Linked DNA regions of Homo sapiens: region 2 is linked to region 1. A link means that fine-mapping ties the variant in region 1 to the expression of a gene that starts in the linked region. Tissue or cell type: sigmoid colon. Region 1 holds a variant in brackets; the other region holds the start of a gene. All regions are shown on one strand. Distances are between the middles of the regions.

Region 1 (2,760 bases):
ATCTTTACTGAGTGTCACAACATTATTTCATGAAAAAGTTACAAATTAGAATTTCAATGTTCCTTGAAAATGTGTATATTTCTACACTTATGCCATAAGACATTTTAAAGAAATGTAGCAATACAAGGAAAATAAAGCGGCACCATCTAAAAAAGTAGAAATTGCTTCCCTACATGGAAAAATTAAAGATCTATGCCAATGCTACACATTACTTCAAAAGCCTCCAGTGGTAAAGCCCCTGAAAGCATTTGAGTGGCATCACCATTCAGGAAAGAGGTAGTTAGAGAATAAGGAGGCTGAACTCCCGGCCGTGCCTCTGCCGTTAAGCTTTATGGAAGTAGGCAAAGGAAACAGCTTCTCTGTAAGTACAAAGTTAGACTGGGATTAACTTTAAAAAATTTTTTTAACTCTAAAAAGGCCACGATTTTACAATATCTAAAATTCGAAGTATGCCATCATACTACCCTCTTTGTTGTGTGACCTGGATTTAGGAACTGAGATCAAGGCTAATAGAAATAAACACACCCATGAACGTCACAGCATTCCTCACCCACAGGTTAGCAGCAAGGGGCATTTATGCCTTTGAAGGTGCCTGCTGTGTGTGCAAGAGAGTGTGTGTGTGAGTTCTGTGACCTGACTTTTGATCTCTGCTTTCTGATCAGAGTGAAAGCAGAATGTGGCCCTTGTGACATGCACTTCTGAAATGTTTCCACAGAGTGGCAGCACTCTCCCACTGAGAAATCTGCCTCTACCTGGCTGTGCCAGGATCCCCTTCAACCAGGTTCTGCGGACCAGAGGTGACCAGCCCTCAGCACACCCACATGCCTGGCCAGTGACACCCCTGATGTACCTACTGAGCCAACTATGAACACTTGATCAGGGCAGTCAGCCTCAGTCCAAGCTGTGATGGACAAACCCAGGAGACTATGCAGGGGACTCTGCCACCTCCTTGCAGTTCTAAGTTCTGCCCTAGTCCTGGCAACAAGTGTTGGCCTCTCTCCCCAGAGTGTGGAGGCAGCCCAGCCCCCTGCCAGCCATATTCTGGCAGAAGAGTCAAGTTCCAAAGTTTTCAAAGTGATATGAATTAGAAACAACCCAAATGTCAATCACAGGGCGATGACTAAATACATTAGGATATGTTCACACTG[C/T]AAAATATTACAAAACCATTGAAAATGATAATTTGTAGTTGTCAGTAATTGAATAAAATTTCTAGAATGGCTAAGGGAAGAAAATAATACACCAAACTGTATAATTTCATATCTAGAAATGCATACATGACATGCGTAATACATAATAGTTACACGAGGATACACACGAGACATAATAGATACACGACAACACTGGAAAGAAATATACCAAAATATTTACAATAAGTTCTTATTACCTGTTTTTTGTTTTTGTTTTTGTTTTTGTTTTTGATGGAGTTTCGCTCTTGTCATCCAGGCTGGAGTGCAATGGCATGATCTCAGCTCACCACAACCTCCACCTCCCCGGTTCAAGCGATTCTCCTACCTCAGCCTCCTGAGTAGCTGGGATTATAAGCTCATGCCACCACACCTGGCTAATTTTTGTATTATTAGTAGAGACAGGATTTCTACATGTTGGTCAGGCTGGTCTTGAACAACCGACCTCAGGTGATCCGCCAGCCTCAGCCTCCCAAAGTGCTGGGATTACAGACATGAGCCACCGCATATTTTTAAAAAATATTTTTATAATTTTTTTAACCAAAGCATGCATTGCTTTTATAGTTAGGAAAAAAGTGAGTTGGAGTTTTTTGTTGGTTTTTTAAGATAAACAGCAAGACAGAGACAATTTCAGGAAAATGATATGTACGACTCTCATTATTTGTAATGTCCTGCACATAATATGTGCTCAAAAAATGGAAGATTTGATAGAAAGCATCCAACTCAGGGCTTCAATTAAGATGATTTGCCCAAGGCTCACACCTGACAGAGGCCAAGCTATTGCTGGCAGCCAGGTCCTGACCCCTTGGCCAGGGCTCTCTCAATCTCATCTATAGTGAACTACCAGGTTCACCAAAATCCAATATTTTCTTCTGTTCTTCGGCATACAACAGGATACATTCTCCAGCCTCCTTTGTGGCCAGCTGGGCCACGTGACTTGGCATCAGCTAATGAAAGTGAATGAAAAGGTGAGGGCCCTCTAAGACCGAGGTCTGGCCCATATGGCCTAGCCTCTCTGCCCCTCCACCTCTTCCCCCTTCCATCATCTGGATGCAAAACACAGTATGGCTCTGGGTCATGGTGGAGACACAAGAAAAAAGGAGTCTTGGTCCCTGAGTGATGGCATGCAAGGCAACCACCTCTCTGAACTGACTGCCCACCCAGATTTGTGAGCAAGGAATAGATGTTTGTGTTAAACTGGTGGCATCTGGTGGGTCTATTACAGCTTAATCTCACTAATATACTAGGCCCTGCCTATTCATTGCACCAAAGGGCCAAAACCCACCTACTCAAATTCATCCACAGCCTCCAACAAAAAACACAGCTCAGTCTCTTCTGGACAATTGCTAGAGGTTGGCTTATGATTCAGGATAAACAGCTAAGTAGATATTAGACTTCACAGAGGAATGGAAACCATTAGTGAGCATTGGGAGCATGTAAAATTAATCCCCCAAACAAAATTAATGTCTTCAAGACAGGCTTTTCCGTTTCATTTCCAATTTTCTATGAGATTTGAGGATCATACTTTCTCATTTTAACTGGCATTAGCAGAGAGGGAAAACTCTTTGGCTTAGCT
Region 2 (2,760 bases), 40 kb after region 1:
CAGACTGGCCCAAAGAACTTGAACATCACCTCGGGAACATTTCCATGGCCCTCACCCCAAGTCCAAGTACAACCTACGTTTGCTATTACACACATCATGCAGTATTATAATGTGCCTGTGTAACAAGCCTGCCCCAGTCCCAAAGGGCAGAGACTGTGTCTCATTCATATTTGTATTCCCAGTGCCCAACACCATGCCTGCCTCATAAAAACTACCCTGAATGAATGTGCAAACTCCCAGGTCTAACACCTCCTGGTGACAGAGATCACTTCTACCTTGCAGTGTGTCACCATGCCTCCCAGGGGGTTCTGCCCAGCCAAGTTAGGCAAGCTTTAGTCCCAAGCCTTCAGATGAATTGGTCCACGGAGGAAGTCTGGAGAGCAGGGACTTTTCAATTTTCAAAACCTTATAAGAATTTCTGCTGTCTTGCCTGCCAGAATCTTTCTTTGGCTCCCAGCAACATAAGCTGCATGCCTCCAACTGACAAGCGACAGGCCAGTTGGTCAGCTGTTGCTTCCATTTACTCAGAGCTGGGCGGCTGTACTGTTTCTGTCACTAAATCAAGGGATCCTTGGGACGGATGTGCTTGGGCGTTAAGGCAGCCTGAGGACCTAGTCTCCGGAAGCTTCTGTGAAGTGTGACTGGGCTGCCCTGCCTGGCACGGTGACTTGAATCTTCAGTTTGCCAATTCTCTAAGAGCCCCAACCCCCCATCCCCAGATCTCTACCCCCAGAGTGGAAGTGATTGCAGCAACTCTTGCAGTAGAATTGGGGGCAGCAGCAGGGGAGGAGAGAAGAGGCTATTAGCAAATCAAAGGAAAGAAAACAGGGGAAGGAAAACACAGTAGCAAATTAAAGCACTATGTTTTCTTTTTAAAAATCCAATTAAAGGGAAATCTGCTTTTGAGTAAAACAATCATGCCCTTGTTACAAAGTATCCCAGGAACCCTCAAGATAGGCAAAACCTTTTTAATCACATTTTTTCTCATTACAAGTTGGCTAATAGGAACATCATAGTAATTCCCCGTTAACTCTTCCACTTTTCACACCCGCACAAACACACTGGGTTATAACAATGCTCTTATTCTATCTTTGTCTCAGACACATTCTCAAGCATGTTGGTTTACTCTCTCCTTAGAATATCCCCGTATCCTCATTCTGATATGCAAACGTATCCTCACCTACAGACCATTCTTTCCTCCTCTCCTCTCTCATGCACGCGTGCACACACACGCTGAAACGCTATATACACACTATATATGCATATAAACATATATGTTCTCCTTTTAATTCAATACTAATCCAGTCATTCGTATTTCCCAATTTCTTCTCAGTCTCTCATACAGGTCCACGCAGTGAAGCCCAAGGGAGATACTTACCTCCATAGCCTGCGGGAAACTTCATGAAGTGAGAATAATTTCCATACATGTTTACTCGTCAGTTCATGTTCCTCTCCTGTGCAGCTTCTAAATATTACCGCCTCTCTCGGCTCCCAGGCACAGCCCGGCTTTCTTCAACTTGGGCTAACAAGAGTGGTCATCGCTTCCTAGCAGCCCGGGGAGCACAGGCTGGGCCAGCCCTCTGGGATTAGTCAGGAATCTGCCTCTAGATCGGAGAGTCCACATAGTGCGTTTGAGACGGCTGTGGCGGCAGCAGCTGGTGCCTGTCAGTAATCACGCATAATGCTGCCGCCGCCGCCGCCGCCGCCGTCACCGCTACTCTTGCCACCGCCGTCGCTGCTGCTTGAGATCCTGTTGCTAGTTTGATTAACTCAGGGTTGGGCTGCTGCGTGCGACTCTTCCAGCTCCCGGCGCGTCCCCAGAGGTCCCTACCGGGTGGCACGATCTATTATCTAGGAAGCCAATCGATGTATGACCGCCCGGTGTAGGTCAGGAGAGAGGCGGGAGACGGCAGGGGATGGAAGACTCTTTAGGTGCCTGTTCCTTGACTTACATCCACAAAAATCAATGGGATTTTATTAAAATGCATTTTCTCATTCGAACTTCTATCTGTCCAATGTACTTGGTATTTGATCTGTGAAAGGAGGAGGGGGTGGGGTTCAAGAGAGAACAGGGCCCTTTCAGAAGCACAAGATTAGAAAAGCGTGATACTCAATCTCCAGCTACGGAAAACTAAAATAGAGTAGCCCTTAAGTTGAGGTGGGCCTCTCCTGCTTGGGTGGCCGGAAGCATTTATCTGTGCTCTAACAATGGGAGTTTGACAAGTGCAGCTGGAGCCAGAGCTCACTCAGGTGGAAAACTTACAGGTAGGGAGGAGGGGTTGGCTTGATGTGGAGGTCTTTCTCTGCATTTATTTTATATACCATTGTTATCCTGCCGCCTGTTCAAAAACACCACTGGGTCCTCACTAACACAGAGCCTGTCTTGTGTGGAACTGACCCGAGATCAAAGAATCTAAGCACCCCGTTGATGTTTGGGTCTGTCATACAGTTTTCGTGACAAGTCACCGCTCAGCCTATACTTGAACACCTCCAATAATGGGGAGCTCACCACTTTCTCATTCCATTTCTAGATAGTTTTCACCACAAGAAAGTTTCTTATAGAGATAAAATCTGCTCCTTTTCCCTACAGCTTCTGCCCACAGGTGCTAGACTGCTCCCAGGGGCCACACAAGAGAAGCCTGAAAGACAAAAAAGTCTTTCACAGTGGGATCCTCTGCAAATCCTGAGATTGATCTGCTGTGCCCATAATCCCCCTTTCCCTAGGCATCTCTGGCTCTTTCAGTAATTCTATGTATCACC

Which allele goes with the higher level. Alleles are on the strand shown, and positions count from the first base shown. SD is a standard deviation of normalised expression in the study named.
For the expression in sigmoid colon of the gene that starts at base 1,660 in region 2, T is the low allele of the variant in region 1 and C is the other (moderate effect, 0.65 SD a copy in GTEx).

The links. PIP is the estimated chance that this variant, and not a neighbour inherited with it, causes the effect.
Region 2: it holds the start of RXRG, and the variant in region 1 is fine-mapped to the expression of RXRG in sigmoid colon (GTEx, PIP above 0.99).

Annotation. Positions count from the first base shown.
Region 1 is chr1:165,403,361-165,406,120 of GRCh38, forward strand. All of the region lies in intron 9 of RXRG (retinoid X receptor gamma), which reads right to left. Among named protein-coding and RNA genes, the nearest start is that of RXRG, 40 kb to the right of the region's middle. The variant C/T (reference allele first, on the strand shown) is at 1,149.
Region 2 is chr1:165,443,467-165,446,226 of GRCh38, forward strand. RXRG (retinoid X receptor gamma) reads right to left here and starts at 1,660. Exons shown (of 10, transcript NM_006917.5): 1 at 1,379-1,660. The coding sequence starts at 1,427.